Homo sapiens: one gene and its partner. The main gene of each other region encodes a partner of the protein of the gene in region 2 in a complex. Each region holds a gene or a part of one and is shown on either strand. Other genes may lie near its edges. The genes, in order: MMS22L and TONSL.

Region 1 (15,676 bases), on a different chromosome or scaffold from region 2:
GAGGCAGGCGAATCACGAGGTCAGGAGATCAAGATCATCCTGGCCAACATGATGAAACCCTGTCTCTACTAAAAATACAAAAATTAGCTAGGCATGGTGGCGTGTGCCTGTAATCCCAGCTACTCGGGAGGCTGAGGCAGGAAAATTGCTTGAACCAGGGAGTCAGAGGTTGCAGTAAGCCGAGATGGCGCCACTGCACTCCAGCCTGGTGACAGAGCAAGATGCCCTCTCAAAAAGAAGAATTATTAATAGCAGCAACAACAGTGGTTATAATGTATACTCCATATATTCAAGATGGATGAAAACAAGCATGAAGTCAGAAACAGAAGACATTTTAAAAAATCCATAAGGAATGTCTAGAGAAAAAAAACACACACACAATAGCTGAGACAGGGTAACACCAACAATTATATTTAAGAATAGCTCTTGGCTGAGTGTGGTGGGTGATACCTATAATGCTAGCACTTTAGGAGGCCAAGGCGGGAGGATCACTTGAGCCCAGAAGTTTGAGACCAGTCTTGGCAACATAGTGAGACCTTATCTCTACAAAAAATTAATTTTAGTCAGGCATGATGGCGTGAGCCTGTAGTCTCAGCTACTTGGGAAGCTGAGATGGGAGGATCTGCTTGAGCCCAGGAGGTCAAGGCTGAAGTGAGTCATGATCGCACCACTGCACTCCAGCCTGGGCGATGGAGTGAGACCCTGTCTTGAGACAGAGACAAAGAGACGGAAAGAGAGAAAAAAAACAGCTGTCAGCAAAACATGTCATTAAGTATGTTATTCTGCCTCAACTGGAAATTAACCCTGGAAGCATAATGGCTAGAACAAGAACTATACTCATCTGGCAGTAAGTAACTACATAGGGACTTCTTGGCACAGCTGAGGTCCAAGGGTAGCTACACAAGTTAATGAACACAGCTACATGGCAGGGACATGTTCATGTATGGATAATATTTAACACCACTAACTTGTCCAAAATCTGTCATTAAAAGCTTTTTTAAGCAACAAAAACAGCCAAAATGTCAGTGTAACAAACAACCATCTTAACAAATAGTCCACTGCAGTGGTTTCAGGTTAATAAGTGTAATAATAATAATCTATCATAATAAATGCCTTCCATGAACCCAATTTACTTAAGTTATTCTACGTAAAGGTAAAGGTATTTTGGTTCTTTCCACTATAATCTTTTAGTGGCTCCACAGGAGTTCCAAAATAAAAATCATACTCTCTGTCATGGTTTACAAAGCCAACTCTGCTTTTATCCCTTCCAAATTCATCACTCACACACATTCTGATCCAACCATATGTAATTAATATTTAATCCATGCTCTCTAAACTTTTATGTTTTTACACACATCACGTCTTTGTTTATACAGTTTTATTTTTTTCTGCCTGGAATTCTTCCTGTCCGAAAAACTTTTCCCAAATCTTTTGCCTAGCTAATTTCTTCCCATCTGTGAAGACCCAGATCTGGCATCATTTAGTGAGGAGCTCACAGATAGACAAAGCCCTTGGCTTCCACAGCAGCTTGTACATTCCTTTATCACCGTACCTTTTCATTTACCAAGCTGATGTATGCTTGCATGTCTAGCTGTCTACACAACTGCAAACTCATCAGCAGCATATTTTTCCTCTTTGATTCGTCAGTACCTTGCAAAGTACCTGGCATGAACCAGGGACCCATCAGATGATAATGAAACAATAATACTTAACATTTACAAATCACGTAACATATTAAGAAAACAAAAAATATAAAACAGCCTAAAAGCTGATAGCTAACAGCTAGGCCATGGTATCCCCTACTGAAAATAAACAATTTTCATAAAACATAAAAAATAGTCCAGGCACGGTGGCTCACGCCTGTAATCCCAGCGCTTTGGGAGGCCGAGGTGGGTGGATCACAAGGTCAGGAGTTCGACACCAGCCTGACCAACATGGTGAAACCCCATCTCCACCAAAAATACAAAAATTATCCAGGTGTGGTGGTGTGCGCCTGTAATCCCAGCTACTCAGGAGGCTGAGGCAGGAGAATTGCTTGAACCCAGGGGGCTGGAGGTTGCAGTGGGCCAAAATCATGCCACTGCACTCCAGCCTGGGTGACAGAGCGAGACTCCATCTCAAAAAATAATAATAATAATAAATAATAATGATACAGGGCCACTCCATTACAGTGAAACAAGACAAAAACAAAACCTCTGTAACCATGTCTGAATACAAAACATGGCACTATGCAATCACACACACTCCAAACAAAACACACACACACACACAAAATGAACAAAAAAACACATCCTCCCTCTTCCAGTGACCAGGACAATACTTTTTTACTAATTAGGATGCTCCCTTTGTTTGTCTCACCTCCTAGATAAAAATTAAAATACCCACTCTTCAAATTGCCCCTGCTAATTAACAGCATCCAATCCAGAATATAGCCTTATCCCCCTTAAGCCCTACGGAAAATCACCAGAATGAGCCCCAAACATATCACAAGTCCCTTCCTACTCCCTCTTACTGACAAGCCCCAGCTTTTCCTTGTAATGTGTATTTTTCCTTTTTTCATAATCTAATAAACCTCTGTTTGACCAAAAGTGTTCCAGGTAGTCTTTGGTTGCTAGGCATCAATAATGGTAGACACTGTGTTAAGCACTTAACACGCTCAACAAAGTTAGAACTATTACTTGACGTAAGACCCACAATTAGCTAGGGTTGGAAGCCAGGGTGACAAGGCCATGATTCTAAACACTGCACTGCACCAAAATTACTAGAAAGGAGAAGCAGCCAGACTGCACTAAAACACACTGCCCTTCAATTCCCTTTATTACCTTAGCTATACATGCGGTGGCTCATGCCTGTAATCCTAGCACTTCAGGAGGCCAAGGCAGGGGATCACTTGAGGTCAGGAGTTTGCGATCAGCCTGGCCAAAATGGCAAAATCCCATCTCTACTAAAAATATAAAAATTAGCTGGGGGTGGTGGCAGGTGCCTATAATCCCAGCTACTCGGGAGGCTGAGGCAGGAGAATCACTTGAACCCGGGGGGCAGAGGTTACAGTGAGCTGAGATGGCACCTTTGCACTCCAGCCTGGACAAAAGAGCAGAACTCCCTATCAAAAAAAAAAAAAGCAAAAAAAAACCAACTATACCAATCTAAACAAAAGAAAAAAAAATCAGTAATCCATCACACACCAAAAGCAAACACAAAAGCAGAAAGCAGAAAAGAAAATCAAGAAGACAGCATGAGGTCTGGCACTGTTTAGTTCTCATTTAAGTTCTCTATCCCACTCCCTACCTCCAAAACAAGTACTAATTCTCTTCAGAGAATTTTAGCTTAAGTCGGTTTTACCTTTAAAATCTACAGATTTGGGAAAATACTATATATCTCAGCTACAACAAAATTTAAAAAGTCATACTTTTCTGAACACTAAATTCGTAAACTTCTGGCCTAATGCTTCCTCTGTATTATCATGATATGCCAATTATACCATCATGGACCCATGTGCAACTCACTATAATGAAGCACCATTCCCTTTTGCATTAAACACACCTTAAACTTACCAAAATCACAACTGGACTGTAACAAGGTTTCCAAGTTGTACAGTTGTTGCCTAATTTTAAAAATGTAAGGTGAGAGTTAATTTTAGAACACTTTAAAGCATGTAACAATTACGTGGACAATGTTTCCAAATTACACAGCTTCAATACCTCTTTAATTTGGGGATGATGATTAATACCTTGTGAATGTTAATTAAAGGATCAGCTTCAGGTAATGAAAACTTTAAGAAAAGATAAAATACATCTTTGCCTGACCTTCCAAAATTATCTATTAAAGACTGCATATATCTCAAAAATTATTTCAAATACCATAGCCTTCACCATCAGCAAGATACTGTTTATATCTTTAAGTTTACGGCCGGGTGTGGTGGCTCTTGCCTGTAATCCCAGCACTTTGGGAGGCCGAGGCGGGCGGATTACGAGGTCAGGAGATCGTGACCATCCTGGCAAACATGGTGAAACCCCGTCTCTACTAAAAATACGAAAAAATTAGCCCGGCATGGTGGCGGACGCCTGTAGTCCCAGCTACTCGGGAGGCTGAGGCAGGAGAATGGTGTGAACCCAGGAGCTGGAGCTTGCAGTAAGCAGAGATCGCACCACTGCACTCCAGCCTGGGCAACAGAGCAAGACTTCGTCTCAAAAAAAAAAGAAGTTTAAGATGGGGTGCAGTGGCTCCCGCCTGTAATCCTAGCACTTTGGGAGGCCAAGGCAGGTGGAACACCTGAGGTCAGGAATTCAAGACCAGCCTGGCCAGCATGGTGAGACCCCATCTCTACTAAAAATACACAAAAATTAGCCGGGCGTGGTGGGGGGACCCTGTAATCCGAGCTACTCGGGAAGCTGAGGCAAAGAAGCGCTTAAACTCGGGAGGCGGAAGTTGCAGTGAGCCAAGATCACCCCACTGCACTCCAGCCAGGGTGACAGTGTGAGACACCCTCTCAAAAAAAAAAAAAAAGAAGTTTAAGATACATAAAACATTCTAGGTTAACAGTTACATAATAAAATTTTAAACTGTATCATACAGTTATACAATAGAAGTTCAAAAAAGGAATAATGTAGACTAAAGTATCAGGGAAAGCTGTTATTTATCATGTTCCATCTTAATTCCTGATAGCAATTTCTTGCTATTCTTCCTAGTTGATTTCAAAGTCTTTAAAAATTAACCCATATTTATAACCTATGTCCTAGATAAAGACTCGCTCATTCTGTAATCTTCAGGATTACAGAGGATCACTCACTGAGCCTGTTCTATCAATAAAACGTATGACATGGCGTAGATACAGTTTAAGTCTCTTCAAAAGGTTTCATGGGATGATGGTGAGAGAATTCCTTCCACCTCTCCATTTTCCTTTAAATGTATCACATATAGATTTTTACTGTGTTTTGGAATAATTAGCTTTCAATAACTGACTCCTGTTTAAAATTACCTAAAATCTGAATATGAACTGTGTCTTAAATGATAATGAAGAACTTTAATTTTTATTAATTGAGATGAGTTTTTTTTTTGAGACAGAGTCTCGCTCTGTCACCCAGGCTGGAGTACAGTGGGCAATCTCAAATCACTGCAACCTCCGCCTCCTGGGTTCAAGCAGTTCTCCTGCCTCAGCCTCCTGAGTAGCTGGGATTACAGACGCATGCCATCACGCCTGGCTAATTTTTGTATTTTTAGTACAGAAGGGGCTTCACCATGTTGGTCAGGCTGGTCTCGAACTCCCGCCTCGGCCTCCCAAAGTGCTGGGATTACAAGCATGAGCCACCGCGCCTGGCCGTCCTCATCGTTTTTAAAAAGCACATATTTTTAAGAAATTCATACTGAAGTATTTATGGGTGAAACGACATGATGCCTAGGATTTCCTTACAAATACTTAGGCCAAAAGAAGAGGAGACAAGACAGATGAAGGAAATGTAATAAAAAGTTGTTGTTTACTGCAACTGAAGGAGGGTATATGGATGTTCATTATATTATTATTTTGTGTATGCTTAAAATTTTTCATTAAAAAAATTTTAAATGTTGTCCAAATAATTAATATTTCTATTACACAGTCTAAACAATTTATTTGTTAAGACCATACTCTAAAGATCACTGAAAGACTATGGCTATTGCACAACAAAAATATTTTAATTTTCTTCTAAAAATTATAGTTCAAAGCCTTAAATATTTGTCAATACATGTGTCAAATGCAAAGAATAAAGATTCTGAAAACGCAACTCATTAAAACCATTACTCATCAGGCATTGCTGCTTGATTATTGTTACTGGTAAGATAATCAAGTGAGCAACCAGCACAATTCCTCTGGTCTTTTGTAATATCAGTATTAGAAGCCACCCAACAACGTAATTTACAAAAGTGAACAACACCTACACTCACAGAAAGTTATAACGAAGAAATACCTGAATAAATGAAAGAGTTCTCTAGATGAATTCACTAATGCTGTTTCAGTAACCCACTGAATGCCAAATATTTCCAAGGTATCTTCTTCAAAATTAGTTGGTAAAGGGTCAAGATTCAAAATCAATCTGAAATGAAAATTGTTTCAATCTCATAAAAAGTATACTAAGTACCATAATACGACGGCTCTTTTCTTTACATTATTTGAATCCATATTATACATGACATGTATAAAAAGTCAGAAAATGCCTTGGTACTTTACACATTCAAGATTACAATAGCTAGACTGTATTAAAACGTCAATCTTCTATATTGATAAAATGTACGACTAAAGTGTAATGTAACTTAAGAGGAAAAATCAACAAGAATTCTAAAAAACATATTTCTGCCTGTCTTCACCAGTAGTCTTCAGTTGTAGAATTTCATCCTTTGAGGGGACATTTAATTTTAAAACTGCTAACAGTTATTCTGAGCCATGTCTGGAGAATAGTATCCAACTAATGAAGTTGAGTATTCTATTTAAGATTTCTAACAAGGTACAACTATAAGGTCAACAAAAATAGTTTCCTCACTGAAACTGCCTCAGCAGGTATTACCAAAATATTTCAAGAACAGTTTTACTGTAATATATATGTACCTGCCCAAGGCAAAATAAGTCTATACACTTCTATATGTGCAGGTAGGATTAGAAGGAACAGGGGCAATAAAAAATGTTTGTCTCTCTTAAATATTACTGGAAAGCTCTAGAATATTATCACACTCTTTAGAAGGAAATACTACTGCAAAAGGCTCAGATAGTTAGGAATTCATTTTAAGTAGAAGAAAAATTAGTGCCCAGCTCCCTACAGTAAGGGAACATCAGTTACCAAGGAAGTTTTCCCTAATACCCCAAATACTTTAGATATGCCCTTACCAAGAAGCCAGCAGAACTGATAATCATTTGTACCCTTATGATATACTAAGCTGATTTATAAAACACGACTTGGTGAACACCAAAGTTTAATGGGCTGAAATAACTAACATTCCTAAAAAACTGGTGAATAATCAGATGAGGGAAAATGTCTCTGAGTTTTACCTACCGCTTAAGGGCTCCGCTGCAGAGGTAGGATTCTCCAGAAAAATGTTTTCCTCCTCCTCTGTTGTCAACAGCACAAGAAAAGTAAGGAGGTTTGCACCATTCCGTCCCCAGCTCCAGCTCTAAGCTGTCAGTCAGGAACGTCGATGCAGCAGAACAGTTCTCCATTGTTTACTTCATGTTCTGAAACACTTGGGGTTCGTCGTATCATTAAGGGCTCCAAAGAGAAGGTGTGAAGAGATTCCTGTTGGGGGGGGGGGGGTGGGGCCGAGAGAGTGGGGATTACTTCAGAAAGTTCTCAAGACGTCCGCCAGCAGGAAGGAAAAACAAACGAACAAACCCAGAGGCCAAATTCCCAATTCCCCCTCGCCCTCCGTCCATCAAGGCTGTCAGAACTTAAGACAAAATGCACAACCAACTGGCTGTGGCAGGGACCTCGAAATCCGGCCACTAAGTCGGGCTCTGCAGCCCAGGACAAGGTGAAAAGCAAAGAAATGTCTGCAGGACATAGCGTCCCGGGCTTGCCTAGAACTGCGCCCTCCGCAACGTTTCTAAACCACTCTCCGCCCGTTTCCCAGCAGCAGGGTGGAGAACGCTCCCTCCCCGGCTCGGGGTGGAAATTAGGAAAGCAACCCCTAGGGCCAACCCCGACCCTCCAAGGAGGAGGCGAGACCCACCAGGCCCACGCCTGGCAGCACTCGGGCGGAGAAGGCGGGGTGCCGGTATCCCGCGTACCCGGCTGCAGCAAGGACCCGGGGCGTCGGTTACCCGCGGTGCCTGTCGTACCCGCTCACATTTCCAGCTCCCGAAACCTGCCTCCTGTGACCCAGACCACCAACAGGAATCTTTGGGGTCTAAACCGCAAACAGGCGAAATTCCCGCCACCGCGCGCCCGCGCTCCGGAAAGGCGGGGCCACGGCGCAGCCCTCCCCCGGCTACCAATCGCCTCGCGATATCTGCGCGGAAACAGTCGGAGCCCCACGAATTCTCGCGAGAGTCCGTCAGTCCGGGACGAGGTACTGAGAAACTTTTTTTTTTGTACCTTTAATTGGTGCGTTCGGCTGAAAGGCGGGGCCTGGTAAAAAAAAAAAAACAGAACTGCTGCTGAGGCGGAGGAGAGGACTTAAGGACTATGGGTTTATCCTCTGGCCGGACCAAAGAGAAGATATTTACTCCAGTGAGTGCGAAGTGAGTGCCTCGTTCACACCCACAGTCGCGCCGTCCCCTCTTCCCGCTCTGGGGCCAGCAACTCTTGTTAGAATGCAGATGCCTTTTGTCCATGGACTGTGAGGCAGGCAAGTGCAACAATTAATTTTCTCTGTAACAGATGGAACAAGTAGACAGAAAATTAGTATGGATATGGAAAACTTGGAAAGCACTAACCAACTTGACCTAATTGACGTTTATAGGTGACCAACCCAACAATAGCAGAATACACACTCCTGTCAAGTGCACATGAAACATTCACTAAGCGATACCATATTCCGAGCCATAAAACAAATGTCATCAACTTTAAAAAGATTTAAATCGTACAAAGTGTATAGTCTGATCATAATGGCATTAAACTAGAAATAAAGTAGATACTTGAAATACTCTAAATATTTGGAAATTAAGAATCATACTTCTAACTAACCTGTGAATCAGGAAAAATCACAGGAAAATTAGAAAATACGTTGAATTAAATTAAAATGAAAACACTAAAATTTGTAACAGTACCTGCTTACATTAAAAAGAAGAACTCAATTCAATAAACTTTTGTCTTAAGTAACTAGAAAAAACCCCCAGCATATTGAAACCAAAGCAAGCAAAATGAATGAAATGATAAATAGTAGAAATAAATGGGATGAAATAAATGGAAGGAAATACATGCAAAAGTTGTTTTTCTAAAAGAGCAATATAATTGATAACCCCCCTACCCAAACTGATAAAGAAAATAAACAAATTATCAGTATCAGGAATTAAAAAGGTTTCATCACTATGAAATTTAGTCATTAAAAGGACAAGGATATTAAAAGAACATTATGAACATTTTTATGCCAATAAGCATAGGTGAAATGGACAAATTCCTTAAAAGACGCAAACTGTCAAAAATCAACAAAAGAAGAAAATTTGAGTATCTCTGTATTTATCGTAGTACTCAGAATCTTTGGTTAAGCCTCCCTCCTCTCTCTCTGCACACACACACACACACACACACACACACACACACACACACCACTTCTTACAAGAAAACTTCAGGCCAGGGCAGGCACAGTGGCTTTGGGAGGCTGAAGTAGGTGGATCCCTTGAGACCAGGAGTTCCAGACCAGCCTGGGCAACATGGTGAAACCCTGTCCCTTGTCTCCACAAAAAAAATACAAATATTAGCCAGGCGTGGTGGTGCTCATCTGTAGTCCCAACTACTTAGGGAGGCTGAGGTGAGAGGATCACTTGAGCTGGAGAGTTCGAGGCTGCAGTGAACTGTGAGTGTGCCATTGTACTCCAGCCTGGACAACAGAGCAACACCATTTCTCAAAAGCAACAAAACAAACAAACACTCTCCAGGCCAAATGGCCTTACTATTAAATTCTCCCAAACATTTAAGGAAGGAGTAATACCAATTCTATACTAACTCTTAGAGAAATTAGGAGATTGGATGCTTGTTTTATGAGGCTAGCACCACACTGGTATCGAAACCTGACAAAAGACAATTACAATACAATATCACATGCAAACATAAAAGCAGAAATGTTAGCAAGCAAAATCCAGCAGTACATAAAAAGGATGACATATGATGGCAAGGTGCAGTGGCTCACGCCTGTAATCCCAGCACTTTGGGAGACCAAGGCGGGTGGATCACTTGAGGTCAGGAGTTCAAGACCAGCCTGGCCAACATGGTGAAACCTCGTCTCTACTAAAAATACAAAAATTAGCCGGGTATGGCGCCATGTGCCTGTAGTCCCAGCTACACAGGAGGCTGAGGCAGGAGAATCGCTTGAACCCGGCATGGGGAGGTTGCAGTGAGCCGAGATCGCGCCACTGTACTCCAGAACAAGACTCCGCCTCAGAACAAACAAACAAAAAGGATGACATATGACAAGAAAATTAGATTCATGTTAGGAATGCAAGGTTATTCAAATTTCTACAAGTAATCAGTTCATTATATCAAGTCTATAAAAAGAAAAACTGTCATCTCAATAGACACTGAAAGATCACTTGATAAATTCAACATCTATTCATGATAAAAACTCTCTGCCAACTAAGAATGGAAGAAAACTCCCTACCTTATATGTGATATCTATGACAAACCTGCTATTAATATCATACTTAGTTATAAAAATGTATGTTCTTTTCCTAAGATTGAGAAAAAGGCAATGATGTCCACTTTTTCCACTTCTCTCAACATTTTACTGGAGGTAACTAGTCAATGCAATAAGGAAGATGAAGAAATAAATGTCATATAGATTGAATAAGAAGAAGTAAAACTGTCTTGATTTTCAGATGACATAATTATTCATATAGAAAATCCTAAAAAAATCTCTACAAATATATATAAAAACTATGAGTTCAGCAAGGTGGCGGGGTTCAGTGACACACAAAAATTAATTGTATTTTATAGACATGAAAAGACAATTTGAAAATTAGAGTTTAGAAAACAACACCATTTAATGACATAAACAAGGTTTAAATTTAACAAAATATGCGTCAGATTTTGTTTGCCAAGGATTCCAAAATATTGCTGAAAAAAATTCAAGAATATTCAAGTAAATAGAATGAGATAGCATAATCATAAATTGGAAGACTCAATATTATTAAAAGTTCTTCTGAAGTTTATCTATGGCTTCAAAGGACTGCCAATCAAAATCCTAATCCCAGAGAACTTTCTTTTGTAGAAATTGACAAATGCATTCCAAAACTGATATGGAAATGCAAAGGGCCTAGATTAACCGAAACAATTTTGAGTAAGAATAGTGTTGAAAGAATTCCAGTACCTAATTTCAGGACTTGCCATTAAGTTACAATAATCAAAACAGTATGATTTTGATCTAAGGGTAGACATAGCCAGTGGAAAAGAATAGAGACTCCAGTAACAGGCCCCCATACACGTTTGATCAGCTGCTTTTTGGCAAAGGTAATTCCATGGTGAAAGGATAGTCTTTTCAACAAATAGTGAGAGAACTATTGGATACTGATACACTTAAAAATGAACCTACCTCATATTATAAAATTTAACCCAGTAAGGATCATAGACCTACATGTAAAAGCTAAAACTCTTAAAAACTTTTAGATATTCAGCTTGCTAGTAATCAAGAAAATGCCAGCAAAGAAAAGCAAGAAATAAGGCTAGTCCACAGAAGAAAAATCAAGTGTGTGTGGTATGGTATGATGTCTGTCATGAAATCCAAGAGAAGTATTTTATGAAAGAATGGGTAAGCTAATAAAGGAAAACAGATTAATCATTGGTATTGGCAAGAAATAGGTCATTACTAATGTTGATAAAAGCTGTTTAAGTTGAGTAGTTGGGGAAAAACATCTGATAGGAGTGGGTCATATAGAAAATGGGAGGTGAATCAGCAAATATCAAAACTTTACCCAGGAATTTAATTGAAAATAAAGCATAAAAATAGGACAGAGGGACATATAGGGATCAAGAAATGGTATTTTCAAGATAAAAGATGTTAGAACATGTTTGCGAGGCTATGGCAGTTATTAAATGGAAAGAAAAAAGATGCTGAACAGAAGGGGAATAATTGCAAGAATAAAGGCATTGAAAAGATGAGAGGGGATAGTATTCATTACACAAATGACATATCAACCTCTGATAGGCTCAAGAAAAAATTTTTATCCTAATAGGAAGAGTAAAAAAAAAAAGTAAATCTTAAAAATACAGAATAAGATGGCTGGAGGTGGTGAACTACGTGTTGGAATGTTGAGTTGTTTTTGTTTTATTTCACCTATTTCTCTATGACACATCAACTGGAAGTGAGAAGGAAGAGTAGTTGTTAGAAATTAGAGAAGAGGTGCAATATTGTCATATTGGTGAGTAGAAAAGTATATTTACTAGGCAAAGATAATAAGAATGTCTGGAAGTGTTGAGTTATCATTTGAGATTTGTGACAAAAAATTAGAGTTCAGTCATCATGGTTTTGTCATTTTCTCCAGCACCATTCAGCTACTTGGTAAAAGAGGGCAGGACAGGCCAGGTACGGTGGCTCATTCCTGTAATTCCAGCACTTTGGGAGGCCAAGGCAGGTGAATCACTTGAGGTCAGGAGTTCAAGACCAGTCTGGCCAACATGGTGAAACCCTGTCTCTTCTAAAAATACAAAAATTAGCCAGTTGTGGAGGCACACACCTGTAGTCCCAGCTACTCGGGAGGCTGAGGCAGAAGAATTGCTTGAACCCGGGAGGCAGAGGTTGCAGTGAGCCATTATCGTGCCACTGCACTCCAGACTGGGTGACAGAGCGAGACTCCATCTCAAAAATAAATAAATAAATAGAAAACCAACAACAACAACAACAAAAAACAGGGAGGACATATGATAGAATTTGAATGTTGTATAATAAATGAACCCATTCTAACTTGCTGCTTTTTAAAAAATATACCCACAAACCATCTATTTAATAATGTATTCTTGTGTTTTCAGGTATCAGACTCAAAGTCAAACAATTTAATATGAATGTCATGTTTTGTAGGAGGGAAACTTTTCACAAATTCAACTTAATATGATATATTCCACTGATTGAAAGGTCTCAGTTTCAGAAAGTTTATGATTTTAATTGAAATCTTATTTAAAGTTTAAGACTGTTCCTTCTTATCCCTTAAATGTAAATGAGGATCACCTTACCACTTTATAGTAACTGCTGTTAAGTCTAGAATTGGATTCAACATTGTAGCAATATCTGACCAATATTAACTCCAGTTCTAATGATCTTATTATTACAGTTGGACACTGTTGAGGATACACTGAGATAGCTCAACTTAGTTATGGCTTTTAGTTCTGTGCTGTGCTATTGAAAATACTAGGTTATCTCCATGAGCTATCTATTGTAAATGTTTATACAACCTACTGTAAGCTGACTTTCTGTTGACCCACAGTATTTTAATGCACTAATTTTGTGCAACAGATAATGAACTCTTAACCTCTCAAGTGCTACTCCCTGGCACACATATTATGATTTAAACAACTACTTCAGTAGCAACAGAGAAATGTAGTTGGTTAAGAAGGAACAACTTTCCTATAAAAGGAAAAGGACTTTTCATACAACTGTTCAAGGCACTTAGTCATTAACAAGGGAATACACCACATAGAACTTTGAAAAAATCTACATACAAGAAAAACTCCATTATTGATCCTCATTCATTTTTCTATAGCTTTATCATCTTTCCCTCCTGCTTGTGCTCTTAATCCATTTTCTTTTACCTCCAGGAGCTTGATCCTTCAATTACCACTATTTCTTCAACCTTCAACCACTCCCTCTCTCCTGTCTTCTTTCCCAAAGCCTACTGTGATAGACATCTTCTAAGATTGCTCTCAGTAATATCTGCCAGTATTCATGTCCTTGTGCAGTCTTCTCCCCTTGTGTGGGCCGAACCTAAAGACTTGCTTCTATTGACCAGAATAAGGCAAAAAGTGATGAGATATCACTTCCACAATTAGTTTACAAAAGACTGTGATTACATCTTGCTAGAACTCTCTCTCTCACTAACATTCTTCCCCTGTCAGCTTCTTGATTAGTTCACTTCGATGCAGTAAACTTCCATGTTAGAAAGGCCCACATGGCAAAAACTGAGAGCAGACTCTGGACAATAGGTAGTGAAGAACCATGGTCCTCAGTCCATCAGTCCACAAGGAACTGAATTCTGCCAACAATCATCTGAGCGAGTTTGGAAAGCAGATTCTTCTGCAGTTGAGATTTGAGATGACTAGGCCTGTATCTATTGTATCTAATACAATAGATAGCTCATGGAGATATATAGTAAATAATTTAATCTTGTCCAAAAAGGAGTCTGGGCCTTTGCCCTTGGCTTATGAGAGGTAATTTCTAAGCCTCTGGAATGTTGTGTCTGATAAGAGTGTCTTTTTTGCCTGGGGCCTAGGATCATACAGGATAATCTAACAGTGTGATTTGGGCTGGCAGTTGGCCATGGCTGAAAGATCAAAAATGTAATTTAGGATGGGTCTTTGAGTCACGTGATATCAGTCTGGAGACTGAGATCAACCATGTGGGTAATCACTCTAACATGCCTGCATAATGAGGACCCACTAAAAACTCTGAACACTGAGGCTCAGGTGAGCTTCCCTAGTTGGCCGTATTCTGTGCATATTTTCACACGTTGATGCTGGGAAAGTAACACATCGTGACTCCACTGGGAAAAGAAAACAGAAGTTTCACCAAACAGAAGTTTGATACTTTCTCATATGGGTTTCTTCTCTTGGCTGATTTGAATCTGTATCCTTTCCTTGTAACCATAACTGTGAATATAATAGTTTTCAATAAGTTCTGTGAATTTCTCTAGCAAATTATCAAAGATTAGGGTGGTTTTGAGAACCCCTTGGACCTATAATTGGAGTGAAAATTGAGGGCAGTGGTAGTGTGGACTGTCTGCCCCCAACTTCACGGTTGGCTAAACTATTTTAGCAACATTGCTGCCAGTCACCCATGGTGACTGACAACTTGACTGCACCTGTGAAAGTCCTTGAAGCAAAGGATTCAGTTAGCCCACCTCCGGATTTCTAGATGAGATAATAAAATTTTGTTATCTTGAGAAACTATGAGATAATTTGTTGTTTCAAGCCACTAAGTCTTGGCGTAACCTATTACATAGTAATAGATAATTAATATAACTAATAGCATACTTTTAAAAAAACAATAAAGCTTGCTTCAAGCCAAGAGTTCAATATCAGCTTGGGGAACAAAGCAAGACCCTGTCTCTACAAAACATTTAAAAAATTAGCTAGGCATGGTGGCACATGCCTATAGTCCTAGCACTTTGAGAGGCAGAAACAAGATGATTGCTTAAGCCCAGGAGTTGGAGGCTTCAGTGAGCTATGATTGCACCACTGCACTTCAACTTGAGTGAAAGAGCAAGACTCTGTTTCTGAAAAAATTTAAAAAATTGAAAAAAAATAAAGCAACCAGGCATGGTGGTTCTTGCCTGTGATCCCAGCATTTTGAATGGCGGAGGCAGGTGGATCATCTGAGGTCAGGAGTTTGAGACTAGCCTGGCCAACATAGTGAAACCCTGTCTCTATTAAAAATACAAAAATTAGCCAGGTGGTAGTGGTGCTCGCCTGTAATCCCAGCTACTTGGGAGGCTGAGGCTGGAGAATCACTTGAAACCGGGAGGCAGAGGTTGCAGTGAGCCAAAATTGGTCACCGCACTCCAGCCTGGGTGACACAGTGAGAGTCTGTATCAATCAGTCAATCAACCAATAAAGCAAAACAAAACAAATCTTGTTTTCTTGTATTTAAATAGTCACATTGATTCCAAATCTAACCAAATGATAATAAGCACCCTTCACGTCTCATGCTCTCTATATATCTTTTAACTAATATCCTTATTTTTAGAGCATTTTTAGGATTATTAAAAAAAATTTTTTTCACCTTTTATTTTTACAGATGGAGTCATGCTATATTGCCTAGGCTGGTCTTAAACTCCTGAGCTCAAGGGATCCTC
Region 2 (14,984 bases):
AAAGCATTCCCCCAGCTGTTTTTTTCTTTTTTTGTTTTTTTTTTGAGACAGAGTCTCGCTCTGTCGCCCAGGGTGGAGTGCGGTGGCGCCATCTCGGCTCACTGCAAGCTCCGCCTCCCGGGTTCACGCTGTTCTCCTGCCTGTCTCCCAAGTAGCTGGGACTCCAGGAGCCCGTCACCACGCCCGGCTAATTTTTTGTATTTTTTAGTAGAGATGGTGTTTCACCATGTTAGCCAGGATGGTCTTGATCTCCTGACCTCGTGATCCGCCCGCCTCGGCCTCCCAAAGTGCTGGGATTACAGGCGTAAGCTACCACGCCCAGCCTGTTTTTTTCTTTTTCTTTCTTTTTTTTTTTTTTTGAGACGGAATCTCGCTCTGTCACCCAGGCTGGGTGCAATGGTGCAATCTAGGCTCACTGCAACCTCTGCCTCCCGGGTTCAACCAATTCTCTGCCTCAGCATCCCGAGTAGCTGGGATTACAGGTACCCGCCACCACGCCTGGGTAATTTTTGTATTTTTACTAGAGACAAGGTTTCACCATGTTGGCCAGGCTGCTTTTGAACTCCTGACCTTGTGATCCACCCCCTTCGGCCTCCCAAAGTACTGGGATTACAGGCGTGAGCCACCGCGCCTGGCCCCCCAGCTGTTTTTTCTAAACCTCCAAACCTCTAACTCTCTCTGTAGAGCCCCTCAGCGAGTTCAGCCCGAATCTGGGGAGAGGCGAGCTCCTCCCAGCAACCCTGGGACCTTTGGCCTCTGAGGCTCAGTATTTTCTGGGTTCTTCCCCACCTCGTACCTTGGCCAGGTATCGGAATACAGGCTCCATGAGGTCCGAATCACCCTTGCCGGCTGCCACGGAGCTGAGCTCTAAGTGCAGGAGGGTGCCGGCGGGCAGGCTCTGCAGGGTCCTGGCCAGGGCAGGGGCTCCCAGGGCGTTGTAGGACAGGGACAGGGTCTTCAGGTGCTCAGCATCTGCACCGGGGCCAGAATCCGTCAGCCCCACGTGGCCACAGCCCTGTACCCACCCCAAGTTCTGGGCCCAGAACCCTCAGGACCCCTTTGGGGAAACCACTACCGCAGTGCTCGCAGGGTGGGGTGGCAAGTGCAGAGGCAAAGGCTCTCGCCCAGATTCTCCCAGCTGGGAGGGCGGGGCCAGACTTCCAAGCTCGGCTGCCCCCAGTTCTGGACAACTTGCCCTCTCCCACCCCACAACCACACGGTCCTGGGCCACATGCCTCTGCACAGTGGGGGTGCCAGGGGAGTGCACTGACCATTGCTGCCCCCCTTACACTCCCCCTGGATGACACCCAATTCCCAGCCTCTTGGCACTGGGACCCCAGTCTCTGCAGCCTGAGTGGGCTCACAGTGGAACTGCCTCAGGCGAACAGCACTCAGCTGGCGAGCACGGGATGGGGACCACAGGACACTAGCTGCCCGGACTCTGCTCTCGGTGTGTCCTGCGGGGGTCAGCCTGGCTGGGTGGGCACCAGACGCCCCTCGGAGGCAGACCCTGTACCCACACATCCATCTATTGCTCCCAGGTGCCAGGCCCTCCCGGAGAGCCAGGTCTGGCATCCCAGGCCCCTAGACGTTGTTTGTTTCGTTTTTTTGACACGGAGTCTTGCTCTGTCGCCCAGGCTGGAGTGCAACGGCGCGATCTCGGCTCACTGCAAGCTCCGCTTCCCGGGTTCATGCCATTCTCCTGCCTCAGCCTCCTGCGTAGCTGGGACTACAGGCACCGGCCACCACGCCCAGCTAATTGTATTTTTAATAGAGACGGCGTTTCACCGTGTTAGCCAGGATGGTCTCGATATCCTGACCTCGTGATCTGCCCGCCTTGGCCTCCCAAAGTGCTGGGATTACAGGCGTGAGCCACTGCGCCCGGCCTAGACGCTTTTTTCTTAAGGGATGGGGTCTCACTATGTGGGCCAGGCTTTCCTGGAACTCTTGGCTCAAGCGATACTCCCGCCTCAGCCTCTCAAGTAGCTGGGACCACAGGTGTTGCCCCTGTGTGCCCAGCCTGGGCCCCCTCTGAAAGTCCTGGAAACCCTCAATGCCCCAGGGCTAGGGAGTGGACAGGGAGTGCCTGGTCAGCTCACCTTGGAAAGCACTACCCAGTGCTGTCTGGTGGCTCAGAAAGAAGCTGGGGCCGAAGCCACACGCCTGCAGGCGCAGGGTGCTGAGTAAGGGGCAGGCGTGCAGGAGGGAGGCCAGGGACTGGCCACAGCCGTCCCCCAGGGGGTTCATGCTTAAGTCCAGCTCCTCCAAACTCTGTGGAAGACACAGGCTGGCAGTGAGCCCCCAGCAGTCCCACGGACAGGGTCCCCCTTGGGGCTTGGCTTGGCAGTCTCTTCCCCACCTTGCCTGGCATAGCCTATTACAGCCGGGCACTGGCTGGCTCTCCCAACTACCCTAGACCACCCAGGGACCTGCAGAATGGGAACCCCAACTCCCCGCTGTTGAGGGCCTGCTGCTCTCTGTGCCTATACCTGCAAGGTGGCTTGGCCTGGGAGCCCCATGGCAAGCTGGCGCAGGCCTTCGGGACCCAGGTGATTGGAGGAGAGGTCAAGGAGGGCCAGGCTGGGCATGGTGCCCAGGGCAGCCACCAGCTCAGCCACACACTTGTCCCCCAGCCGGTTCCCTGCCAGGCGCAGCTCCCGGAGTGCTGTGTGCAGCTTGAGGGCCCGCAGCAGGGGTGTAAGCTGGGCCTGGTCCAGGGCCAGGGAGCAGGCGCTGAACGAGAGGCCCAAGCCCTGGAGCTCCACGGCCTGCAGCACCTGTTGGTGCTCCCCTGCGGGAGGGATGTGATGTCACCAGGGTAAGGCCGGCCCTTTCTGCCCTCTGAATCCCAGAGGGCAAACCAGGCAGCCCCTTTTCAACAGCCCCAGGGGTCACCCACCAGACTTGCTGTAGAGCCCACTCGCACATGCCTGTGGGTCTAGCACTGTGAGGCCCTGGGGGCCGGGGTGGGTCTGCAGCACCCTGAGCTCCACCAGTCACTGCCAGATTCCACACCCCCCGGGACAAGCTTTCTGGGAAGCTTCCCCAGCAGCTCCCAGCCCATGCCAGGCCCTCCTCCTTGGGTTTGACTTTCCAGGCTTTCGGCTGCTTTTTGCCATCTCCCTGTCAGCAGATCATGGGGGCTGAGGGCTGTCCTCTCCCTTCCACCCACACATCCAAGTGCAGGACACAGCACCCACCAGGCTGGGGGAGGTGCACCCCAAAACACCCGAGGCCCAGGAATGAACCGGGCTGGTGGAGCCTGTGTGCCCAACCCCCTTGTACGACCTCACCCAGAAACTGCAGCTCTCCTGGCCCTCACCTTGCCCCAGGCTCTGGCAGGCCCTGCGGTAGCGGTCAGTCAACGGGGGCAGGTCCCACGAAGTCACCTCAGCCAACACCTGGAAGGCACCGTCATGAGCCACCTGGGGGCTCCCCCGGCTCACCTCATCATTGCTCTGCAGCCATGAGCCACCCGGGGGCTCCCGGTGCCTGAGGCCCTGGCTCCCCCTCCGCTCTGCGGCTCACCTCGTCATTGCTCTGCAGCACATCAGGGATGAGGTCCTGTGGGGCCAGCAGGGCCCCCTCTTTCCGTAGGGTGAGCCTGGGCAGCAGCCCGCAGGTCTGGTAGTAGCGCTGGGCCGCCTGCTCGGCCAGCCAGGCCACAGAGTGGGTGTCACTGCTGCAGGGACAGAGGCGCTGCTGCTGCTGCCTGCACACAGCCGGGGTAATGCCCCAGGGACCCGCCATCCCTGCCCAGGGCCAGAAGCCCCCTCAGCTGCTTCTCCCATTCCCAGGTAGCCGGCCCCTCCTCTCCCTGCAGCCCAGCACACCACCAGCCCCTCTGCTATTCCTGGGGGCCACAGGATCCTCCTGGAACACACCAGGGAGCCCTCGTCACACGCCCCACCCTGACATGCAAACACGAGCACCCTGGCATGGAGCTGCACAGGTGGGCTGCGGGGTAGGGCAGGCGATGCCTCACCTGTGTGGGACAGGGATGAGGAAGAGATGATCCTGAACTTGAACTCGAACCCGGATGGGAGGGGGCGGGGCCGGACCCTGGCAGGTGAAGGCAGCAGGGCTGAGTCAGGAGCCACAGTGGGCTCCACCCTACACCTGCCTGCCCGGAGTGGGGAGAGGGCTCTGCTCCAGGTCTGCATACCCACCAAGGGCTGGCCTGCCGCAGAGCTGTCCCCACTGGGCTCTGAGACCCTGGGGGTGCTGGGGCTCCCTGGAGGTTCTGAAGCCAGGCTGCTGGGCCCTGCGTTAACTGGCGCACTGCAACTCTGCATGCAGGTCAGGCGGACCTGCTTGGCTCGGGCACGGGGCCTGCTCTCCTCACTGTCCGACCCAGAGGTACTACTGGGCCTGCGGTTGTCTCCAGTGCCCCGGGGGCGGGGCCGGCGGCTGCGGGTCAGGGGCATGTCCAGCTCCAGCCAGTCCCCGGCCAGGCACTCCTCCTCCGGGATGAGCGCTGCCTGGGGGGCAAGGGCTTTGCTGTGGCCCCGCGGTGGGCCAGGCCCCAGCCGGCTCTGAGCACTGCCCACACCCCGGATGGCTGCCTGGTAGGCTGCCCGGCTGGTGCTGGCTGTGGCTGCTTCCCTGTTGCTGGCGGGGCCAGGCGTCCAGGCTGCCACCCGTTGTGCTGTGGCCGAGCACCGAGGCCTCTTCTGGGACGGCCGTGCGGGGCCTGCGCTGTCCTCGCCTTCTGAGCTGCTGCTGCTGCTGGCTGGCCCATGCCTGCTCCTCCGAGGCCTGGCCATGGCTGGTGCCGCCTGCCCTGGGGAGACCCTGACATGGGCCTGAGAGGCCTCTGGGAGTCTAGTGCTATTAGAGGGGGGTTCTGGGCAGGGGCTCAAAGGAGGAGAGGTCTCGGGGTCAAACAGAAGGCTGCTTGGGGTGTGGAAGGCCTGGGAGCTGTGGGGATCTGTGGGAGAGAGAATGCGTGTTGAGGCAGGGGCCCGGCACCTCCCGCTCCACCTGTGATGGAGCATCTCCCGAAATCAGGGCCCGGGGACTCTCAGCGTAGGCACAGCAACCCCAGGGACAAGGGACGCCCTGCTTGCCTTGGCCCGAGGCAGCCGCCTGGAGCAGCATCTCCATGGCCCTGGCCTTCTGCCGCGTCTCCAGGTCCAGGTCCCTGCGGTACAGCTTCACCCACTGCTGCAGCGTCTCCAGCGGGCTGAGGCCCTGTGTGGCATCAGTTGAGCAGGGGCACAGCAGCCCCCATAACCTCGCCCTTGCCCTCTGCCCCACCAGGCTCACCTTTCGAGTGCGGAGGGTGACGGACGCCCCCCGTTCAAGCAGCAGCTCAGCCACCTCGAAGTGGCCACAGTTGAGGGCATCGTGGAGGGGGGTGATGCCTTCGCAGCCCTGGCCACCTGGGTCGTCCACTGCGGCCCCGTGGTCCAGCAGGAAGCGGACAATTTCTGCAGACCAGGAGACGTAAGCCCAGCTCCCGATGCCCCGCCAGGACTGACTCTTCGCCCCACGTGTCCACCAAGGTGCGCCAGGCTCCTTCTGTCCCTTGCTCACCTAGATGCCCGTAGTTGCAGGCCTCGTGCAGAGGTGTCCAGCCACAGTAGTCCCGAGGGTTAAGGGGGTGGCCCTGTGACCAAGGACAGGAAGGAGCCTGGCCCTGTGTACCTCACAGCCTGGCCCCAGCCCCGTGAGCTCTGCAGCCTAAGCTGAGCCCAGGGCCTCAGTCTTAGAGCCCAGAGCAAGTCCGTGGCCCTGCCCTCTCCTCCTCCGGCCTAGGTGTCACCAGTGAAGGACATGCTTCCCCCTGAGACAGGTGGACCAGCCACAGCATATCCTCCGCCTCTGTGCCTGCCCGGTCCCCTTGTGGGGAGACAGTGCACCTGGTCGCAGGGGCATGAGGCAGGCGGGGCGGGAAGGTGCCCAGATCTCAGCCCATGGGCTAGCCCCCATCCTGGCCAGGCTGACCAACTTAGCTGTAACACAGATGCATACCACACAGCAGGTACCCCATTTTTTTTTTGAGACCAGCCAGGCTGGTCTCAAGCTCCTGACCTCGTGATCTGCCCACCTTGGCCTCCCAAAGTGCTGGGATTACAGGTATGAACCACCGCGCCCAGCCTGGGCACCCCATTTTTTTGTGTTTTTTTTTGAGACAGAGTCTCGCTCTGTCACCCAGGCTGGAGTGCAGCGGCGCAATCTCATCTCACCGCAACCTCCGCCTCCCAGGTTCAAGCGATTCTCCTGCCTCAGCCTCCCGAGTAGCTGGGACTACAGGTATGTGCCACCATACCCAGCTAATATTTTTGTATTTTTAGTAGAGACAGGGTTTCACCATGTTAGCCAGACTGGTCTCAAACTCCTGACCTCAGGCAATCCGCCCGCCTCAGCCTCCCAAAGTGCTAGGATTATAGACATAAGCCACTGTACCCGGCCTGTGGCTTTTCTTCTGAGACAGGGTCTTGCTCTGTCACACAGGTTGGAGTGCAGTGGCAAGATCATGGCTCACTGCAGCCTCCACCTCCTAGGCTCAAGCAACCCTCCCACCTCAACCTCCAAAGCAGCTGAGACTACAGGCACACGCCATCACATCCACCTAATTTTTAAATTTCTTGGAGACAAGGTCTTGCCAGGGTGCCCAGGCTGGTCTCGAACTCCTGGGCTCATGTGATCTGCCTGCCTTGGCATCCCAAAGTGCTGGGATTACAGGCATAAGCCACCCCGTGCAGCCTCCGCTTTTTAAATTTTTTTGAAACAGGGTCTCACTGTGTTGCCCAGGCTGGAGTGCAGTGGCATGATCGCGACTCCTGCAGCCTCAATCTCCCTCCCAGGATGAAGTGATCCTCCTGCCTCTAGGACCACAGGCAAGTGCCACCATGCTTGCTAAGGGGCCCCATTTTGAAGATGAGGAAGTTGAGAGTTACAGAGATAGGGGATCCGGCACAAACGCACAGCTCCTCCATGCTAGGCAGCCTGTCCCACGTCCCAGAGCGGGGCCCACCTGCCTCACAAGGTCCTGGACGCGGCGCAGCTGGCCCTCGATGCAGGCTCGGTGCAGCAGGGTCTCCCCCATGTCGTTTCGCCGGTTCCACTGTGGGCACAGCCAACCCAGCACAGGGCAGGGGCGTGAGGAGCTGGCAGGGCTGCTGAGCGGGGTGGGTGGGGGCAGGGCACTGTCCTCACCTTGCTCCCCTTCCGCCGGCCCAGGTGGCCCTGAAGCTCCTCGTCCTCCTCCAGCTGCGGGGTCAGGCCATCGGTGTCGTCCTCTGGAACAGAGCCAAGCCCACCCCAGGGGAGTCCGTGGGAGGTGAAGGTTAGCAGCCCCCACCCTGCTGCAAGCTCCCCAAACTCCCAGGTACAAAGGAGCCAGAGACGGGAGGGCTGAGCTCTGAGGCTGCTGGGCTCTGGGGGCTCCTCAGCAATGGTCCCAGCGCTGCCTCCATGTCTCCCTGACCCTGCTGGGACCCTGCTCCTGCCCACCATCCCTCTGCCCACTTGAGACACACCCCTGAGCTTTCTGCCCTAACCCACGCCTGGCCCTCCCACAGAAGGCCTGCCCGAGGCCCCCTCTGTCCATGCGCCAGCCACTCATCCCCACGCCCAGACCGGCTCGTGGGCCAGTCTTCCTCCACCCCACGCCTTATCCACCCCCATCTCCTGAGCTGTGTCGTCAGGCCAGGTCAGCCCTGGAGCCTGGGTATCCTGCACCTTGCAGCCTCCACCCTGCCTAGGCAGCAGACACACCCGCCTCCGTCCCTGCTTCGGGTGACCCCTCATCACCACGCCCTTCACACCCTGCCAGCTGCCTCTGGGTCTTTCCGCAGCTCCTCACTGTGCCCACCAGCTGAGCAGCATTCCCCAAAATTCTAGATCCTGATCCACCTCCCCCCAGCAACCAACCTGGCAAGGCCCCAACTTCCCACAGCTGCCTGGCCACTCAGGGTTCTAACGACGCCCTCGAGTTCAGAGCTGAAGTCACAGCCTTCCCTGGAACACCCCCCAACAGGCCTCATGGACAGGCTCCTGCCACCCACCACTCAGTCAGAAACCAGCCTCCCAGCTACCCGCTAACCCCGCTCTCAGCCCTCTCTCCCTGCACCACGGCCAAGATGGCTTCAGTCCAAGCCCCGCTCCAGCCAGTCCCTCATGCCTGCCCTCCGTGCAGCTGATGTCGCCAGCCTCTGGAGGAAACCCAAGCCTGCTCTGAAGGGTTTCAGGAAGGTGCTCAGCTCTTGCAGAGGCAGCCGGGGCTCTTCAAAGTGCACCGTCTCACCCCTGGCCCCAGATGGCACGTGCCTCTCTAACGGGACCATGCCCCAGCTGACACTCACTCGACTCCCAACCACTGTCTCCTCCAGGAGGCCAAGGCCGCCCCAGGCTCCCTGCGGGTCACCACCTTCTCTGTCCAGTTCCGGGAAAGCACTGGCCGTCCTGCCTGCCTGTGGCTGTTCCTGCTACAGCCCTAAGCAGGCTCCACAGCAGCACAGCACACCCCTCTCCAGCCCGGCCCAGAGCAGGCCCAGGGAAATGCAAGGTGCCGCTGGCCCTCACCGCCCTCTGAGAGCTCCACCTCGCCGGCCTCCAGGGCTTCGCTCTCCGCTGTGGCTGCCGCCTCCTCCGCCTCCTCCTCCTCATCTTCATCTTCAGCTACACTGAGCTCCCGTAGTCTGGTTTCGGTCTCAGGGGCCTCCTGGGGCTGCAGCCTCAGCTGCACGGTATGGAGATGCTGCAAGACCTGCCTCTGAGGAGCAGAGGGATGCTCAGCTCAGGACTGGGGGCTGTGGACGCAGAGAAAGATGGGGATGGGGCACAAGGGGCAGGCAGGCTGCAACGAAGCTGGGCTCACCGGGGAGCCAGTATGGGTGGGATGGGCTCTCGCACCTGCAGCTGGGGACGCTGGGCCTGCTGGGCACAGCTGAGCGCTTTCTGGAAGCACGGGGCCAGCAGCTCGTAGGCATCGCCGGCCTCCTCGCGGGACAGTGCAATGTTCAGCCAGGTCTTGGCCTCCTGGAGCAGGAGGAAGGACAGGGTCGGGGGCTGCCGCTGTCTGCGTCCAACGGGCCCCAGTCAAGCTTCCCCGGCTGCCCAGACGAAATGGGAGCCCGGCCTCCCAGCTGCCGAGGGTGGATGGTCCTAGGAAGGAGCTGCCCGTCCAGTAAGGACACCTGTCCATGGCCACCCTGAGAACGGCAGTCCTGAGGCAGAGACATGGGTGAACCTGCATTCGGGCGGGGAGCAAGGGTTTCACCTCCAGCACGTTGCCGCTGCGCAGCCTCAGTTCCTCCTCATAGTGGCGCACGGCCCCATGGTGGTCCTTCATGTCTCCCAGTGTGGTGGCCAGGGACACGTGGATGATGGCCCGCTCAGCACCCGGTCTGTCCAGCAGCTCAGCAAAACGCAGCTGGGGGCAGTGCCAGTGAGGCCAGGGGCTGCCACCCTGGCCAGGCCTCGTCAACCTCACTGGCCCTTCCCTCCCACCCAGCCGGGGCCACACACCTGCTTCTGGTAAGCCTCAGCTGCCCTGGGAAAGTCTCCTGCCTTGGAGAAGAGGTCCCCTAGCTGCTCACAGATGACCATGGCACCCTGAGGGTCTCTGCCCTCAGCCTCTTCCAGCTGTTGCTGCAGCCGGACCACTGCCAGCACTGCCGGGAAGAGGTTCATGCAGGGGGGCAGCACAGGGGGCCCTGACCCCAGCTCTACCACCTGCAAGCTGTGAGCCCTGTGGTGGCCCCCCCACTCTCTCCACACCTCTGCCTGCCTGTTGGTGTGGGGGTTAATAGCAGGGTCTATCTTGGGGACTGGTCTCAAGGGTCACAAGAACTAACACACTTAAAAACTCGGGGCCAGGTACAGTGGCTCACGCCTGTAATCCTAGGACTTTGGGAGGCCGAGGCGGGCAGATCATGAGGTCAGGAGATCGAGACCATCCTGGCTAACATGGTGAAACCTCGTCTCTACTAAAAATACAAAAAATCAGCCGGGTGTGGTGGCGGGCACCTGTAGTCCCAGCTACTCGGGAGGCTGAGGCAGGAGAATGGCATGAACCCGGGAAGCGAAGCTTGCAGTGAGCCGAGATCATGCCACTGCACTCCAGCCTGGGTGACAGAGCGAGACTCCGTCTCAAGAAAAAAAAACAACACAACATGGATGGTGCCTGGCTCAAAGTAAGGGCTGACGGCTGCCAACCTCCAATGGTGGTCTCTGCCATCAGCACTCCTGGACCACGCGTGCCATCTCCTCTCCCACCCTGGGAGGCTAGGGGTACAACTACTGTCTCCAGTTTGCCAATGAAGATGGTGGCTGCGAAATAAAAGCCCAGCTGGTCTCCTGGCCGCCCTTTCATTGCCCCTGACACACTGTGTTGAGCTCAGAGAAAAAAGGGGGTCTTCTCCTGTCAGGAAGTAGGGGTACCTGCCCCTCTTGCTGAAGCTGCTGCCTCCAAGGACAGGTGCTCAGGCCTCCTCTGTGAGGGAGAGAGCCCTGTACACACCTGGCGGGACTCCACCCCGCCCCCAGGCTCACCCCTGCACACACCTCCCAGGGCCCCATTCGCACCCCCAGGCTCACCATGCTGGAGGTTCTGACAGATGGCTGCCCTCTGCACAGGCTTCTGGGAGCCCAGCCTGTAGGCCTTCTTCAGGGCTCGCTTGGCAGCCAAAAAGTCTCCCAGGTCTTGGAGGACCTGGAGAGCAAAGGACAGCAAAGGTTTTGCAGAATCCCCAAGGCCCGAATCTACGAGAGCCTGAGCTCGGAGCCACGCACAGCGGGTACCTGTGCAATAACCACGCAGCACTCGCTCTCCATGAACCGCTTCCTCATGGTGTGCGCACACTCCCGGGCACCCTCCAAGCAGCGCATAGCCTGGGAGTGCTGGCCCGCGCGCCAGTGGATGGTGCCCAGGTTGTAGCGGGCGCGGAATAGGTCCTCGTAAAGGTGGTTCTGCCTGCAGAGGGGTGACGACCACTGAGCACCCAGGAGTGTCCATGACAGCTGCTGATGCCACACGGGCCCCAGCCCTGCCATGCTGTGGTCTCAGGGCCCTAACCATGCCTGGCCTTCTCCCAGTGTGTGGCACAGGTGTGAGAGGTGGGGGGATGAGGCCCAGCCAGACTGCTCTCTCAGGAGGACTCTGGGAAAAATACTCCCCTAACTACTTCCTCCAGGAACAAGGGACTCCACTCCCTCCTGGGGCGGGGCAGGGCCTTACTCCGCAAGGAAGATGCTCTTCCTGAAGTAATCGTTGCACAGGGCTGTCTGCTGCAGGCTCTCAAAGGTGAGGCCCAGGTTGAGATAGAGGCGGGTCCTCATCTCATTCAGCTCTCCCTGGGCCAGTGTCCCTGGAAGATACCCCCCCAAACACTCAGCCACTTCCTCCCCACATGGGGTTTCCAGCTTTGGGCCCCATTTGGGGCCTGTGCAGCGCCTCTCCTACCCCCTCCCTCCTCCCGAGGTGGGTGCAAGTGTCCTGCGGCAGATGGAGCACAGAGTGGATAAAGAGCTGACGATCTCCAGGGGAAAGGTTGAGCGGGGCATGCACCCCTCACACAAGAGCCTTGCAAAGGGAGGGCTCCAGAAGACGGGATTGCCCAAGGAGGCTGCGGGGGTGCTGGGCTGCAGCCTCTTCGGCCCGAAGTTCAGGAGGCAGAAAACGCGGAGGGGTCTGCCCACCCTCCAGCTCCTCATCCACAATAGCCAAGCTCTTCTCAAAGGCAGCCTGTGCCTGCAGCAAAGCATCCCTCGACTGGCAGTGGTCATAGATGTCCAGGTGGGTGCGGCCGATGGTGGCCCAGGCCCTCTGCAGCTCCGTGTGGTTGCGCAGGGAATGTGCCAGCTCCAGGTACTGGTGCTGGTGCTGAGTGTGGAAGGAAGTCACTGCTGTGAGCCGACTCCGCCTCAAGCAAACCGGCACCGCCAGATTCCCAGAGACCCTGTTCTTGCTAAGGAAAGAGCCTGCTCCCCCTAACCCCCACAGAGCAGGCCAAGGCCAGACACGTGCCCCTCCTCTGCATGCCAAGGGCTCTCTGTGGTGACAGTGGCTTCACGCTGTATGCAGCCAACGCTGTCACGTGGGGAGGGGCAGCTGGGAGTTGGCGGGGGGGTTGCAGTCCTGCCTCCAGCAGCCAGGGTCAGGGAGAGCTTTTGGGATGGGGCCTGACCTCCCCCAACACAAACACAGCTAAAATAACGTTCAGTAATGGTTTCTGGTGCCAGGAAACCTACTCCTGCCCCAGTCCCAGGAAAGGCTGTGGGGTCCCCACCGGAGGACTGGCCCGGGGCGGTGAAGGCAAGGCTGCGTCAGGTCAGGTGTCCCCTCCAGCCCGAGGCTCCTGACGGCGAAGACCAGGCCTCCCTCCTCAGAAAAGGGCTCCAGAGGCCGACCGGGCTGGACGAGGCCAGTGAGGGCGCCCGCACCTGCAAGGCAGCCGGGTAGTCCTCCATCTCGGCCAGGCGCTCTCCGATCTTGCGGTGGGCCACGGCACAGCCCAGAGGGTCGTCAGCGCGCTCCCGAAGCTGCAGCTCCTGCCAGTGCTGCTCCAGAGCCTCGGCGTAGCGGCCTAGGCGGGGGCACAGCACGGCCTGGCAGGCGTCGCGGGTGCGAGGGCGGCCCTGGGGCGGCGTCTGCCGGAAGAGCCCGTCGCCCCCCGGCCCCCGATCCCGGCCCGGGCCCGGGCCCCGGCCCTGCCTCCCGCCTCCTGGTCCCGGCGCTCACCATGGCCGGCCAGGAGCTCCCCCAGCTGGTGGCACAGCGCGGCCTCTTCGCGCCGCTGCCCGGCCCTCTGCGCCTTGGCTTTCGCCTTGCTCAGCTCTGTGGGAGGAAGAGGAGGGCTGGGCCTCCGCGGCGGGGTCCGGGGCCGGGGCCGAGTCCCAAGCCCTCCCCAGCCTCCGCGCCCCCGGAGGAAGGGGTCCCCGAGGAACTTACGGCGAAGCTCGCGCTCCAGGCTCATGCTCGGATCGCCGCGGGATCCGGACTTCCCGCGCTGCGCCGCGGCCCCGCCCCTCGCCGCCGACACGCAGGCCCCGCCCCTCGCCGCCGACACGCAGGCCCCGCCCCTCGCCGCCGACACGCAGGCCCCGCCCCTCGCCGCCGACACGCAGGCCCCGCCCCTCGACGGCGGCGGCGGGCGCGGGGCATTCCGGGAAGTACGGTCGGCCCGCCCGCGGCATCCTCGGAGTTCTCGTGCGGGAGGAGCTGGGGCGGGGTGGCGGCGACAACTGGGGCGTCCCACCCTAGGGGCCGTCTTCCCGGACGCCGGGTTGGCCCGCGCGTGGAGCCCTCTGCCCGGCCCGGGGAGTGCCTGGTGGGGACCCCGTTCCTCCTCGTAGGCGGCGGGGACGCGGGAGGCCGGGGGCCCGGAGCCAGCCCGTCCGGGGTCGCAGCGCGCCCTGGGTGGGGTCTTCTGGGCTGCAGCCCCCGTGCCGCCCGCGCTACTCATGGTGGACGAGCTGTGCCGCCGCCCCAATTCCTCCCGAAATTCACACACACAGCCTGCTCACAGGCGCAACTATTAAAAACGAACGTAGTGTCCAGATAGACTGACGATAAATTCACGAGCATTTGGCTGTGGGGACGTAATAAGGTGTCAGGCGCGCTCCTCCTCCGCAGAACGCAGCTGGGTCACATTTGGGGACTCGGCCCCAAGGACTGTTTTGGGAGGGGAATGTGCTTTCCATAGTGAACAAGTATTGTTTCAGCAATGTGTATGCCAGCTGTATTCTCGGAAGAGTCAGTGAACCTGTGCTTCAGCTGCAGAAGTAGCCCGGGCACAGTGGCCCGCACTGTAATCCGAGCGCTATGGGAGGCCCGGTCAGGAGGATCGCTTGAGCCTAGCAGTACGAGACCAGCCTGGGCAACATAGTGAGGCCCCATCTTTCGTGTGTGTGTGTGTGTGAGACGGAGTCTCGTTCTGTCACCCAGGCTGGCGTGCAATGGTGTGATCTCGGCTCACCACAACCTCCGCCTCCCGAGTTCAAGCGATTTTCCTGCCTCAGCCTTCCAAGTAGCTGGGACTACAGGCGCGTGCCAGCATGCCCGGCTAATTTTTGCATTTTAGTAGAGACGGGGTTTCACCATGCTGGCCAGGCTGGTTTCAAACTCCTGACCTTGTGATCCGCCCACCTCGGCCTCCCAAAGTGCCGGTATTACAGGTGTAAGCCACCATGCCCAGCCCGATACCCCATCTTTATTTAAAAAAAAGAAAGGGAGGGAGGGAGGAAAAGAAAGAAAGGAAGAAAGAGAGGGCCGGGCGCAATGGCTCACCCCTGTAATCCCAGCACTTTGGGAGGCTGAGGCAGGCAGATCATGGGGTCAGTGGATCGAGACCATCCTGGCTAACACGGTGAAACCCCATCTCTACTAAAAATACAAAAAATTAGCCGGGCGTGGTGGCGGGTGTCTGTAGTCCCAGCTACTGGGGAGGCTGAGGCAGGAGAATGGCGTAAACCCGGGAGGCAGAGCTTGCAGTGAGCGGAGATGGCGCCACTGCACTCCAGCCTGGGCAACAGAGCGAGACTCTTGTCTCAAAAAAAAAAAAAAAAAGGAAGAAAGAGAGAAAACAACTGCAAAATTATGTCTAGAATCCTGTGACATGGGGCACCCAGGCCTCTAAAATACCCTTGCTATCCCCCATTACCTTGAGGACCAAACACCTGCCATGCCTTGGGTATCTGACTCCCGGCTACACAGCACACCCAGCACTGCACTCAGGTGCAGTGGCTGGTTTCCCAGAGGCCCCAGAGGAGGCTGGGTGCACAGAGTCCAACTGAGGAGCCTCAGGAGTGGAAGATAGATGAGTTAATTTCCATCGTAATTACAGCAAGTCGTTGGGCAAAACTCAGCCAGAGAGATCTGTTGGGGAGAGAGTGGTGTGATGCACTGACAGGTCCCTGGGTCCAGTAAAGGCTGCTGGAGCCCTCCTCAGGCTGACGGCAGAGCGCTGGCCTCCTGGCGTGGCCCCTGGACTGGGCAGATTTGGGCCTCGGTGCCTCCAAGGCTGCAGGGGTGG

The links.
Region 1: TONSL (region 2) and MMS22L share a complex: the UniProt entries of both Homo sapiens proteins name them as parts of the MMS22L-TONSL complex.

What each region holds. Positions count from the first base shown.
Region 1 is NC_000006.12:97,275,295-97,290,970, forward strand, and holds the start of MMS22L (protein MMS22-like), read right to left. Parts: upstream 7,923-15,676; 5' UTR 7,802-7,922; exon of another isoform or gene 7,693-7,801; intron 7,260-7,692; 5' UTR 7,184-7,259; coding exon 7,020-7,183; intron 6,069-7,019; coding exon 5,943-6,068; intron 3,605-5,942; coding exon 3,555-3,604; intron 1-3,554. UniProt on the Homo sapiens protein: Component of the MMS22L-TONSL complex, a complex that promotes homologous recombination-mediated repair of double-strand breaks (DSBs) at stalled or collapsed replication forks.
Region 2 is NC_000008.11:144,431,489-144,446,472, forward strand, and holds the start of TONSL (tonsoku-like protein), read right to left. Parts: upstream 12,953-14,984; 5' UTR 12,927-12,952; coding exon 12,902-12,926; intron 12,788-12,901; coding exon 12,692-12,787; intron 12,537-12,691; coding exon 12,394-12,536; intron 11,834-12,393; coding exon 11,650-11,833; intron 11,319-11,649; coding exon 11,189-11,318; intron 10,925-11,188; coding exon 10,753-10,924; intron 10,664-10,752; coding exon 10,549-10,663; intron 9,624-10,548; coding exon 9,478-9,623; intron 9,419-9,477; coding exon of another isoform or gene 9,383-9,418; coding exon 9,230-9,382; intron 8,989-9,229; coding exon 8,863-8,988; intron 8,723-8,862; coding exon 8,533-8,722; intron 8,406-8,532; exon of another isoform or gene 7,988-8,405; intron 7,295-7,987; exon of another isoform or gene 7,248-7,294; coding exon 7,165-7,247; intron 7,073-7,164; coding exon 6,983-7,072; intron 6,846-6,982; exon of another isoform or gene 6,740-6,845; intron 6,259-6,739; exon of another isoform or gene 6,211-6,258; intron 5,612-6,210; coding exon 5,539-5,611; intron 5,508-5,538; exon of another isoform or gene 5,433-5,507; coding exon 5,269-5,432; and 21 more. UniProt on the Homo sapiens protein: Component of the MMS22L-TONSL complex, a complex that promotes homologous recombination-mediated repair of double-strand breaks (DSBs) at stalled or collapsed replication forks.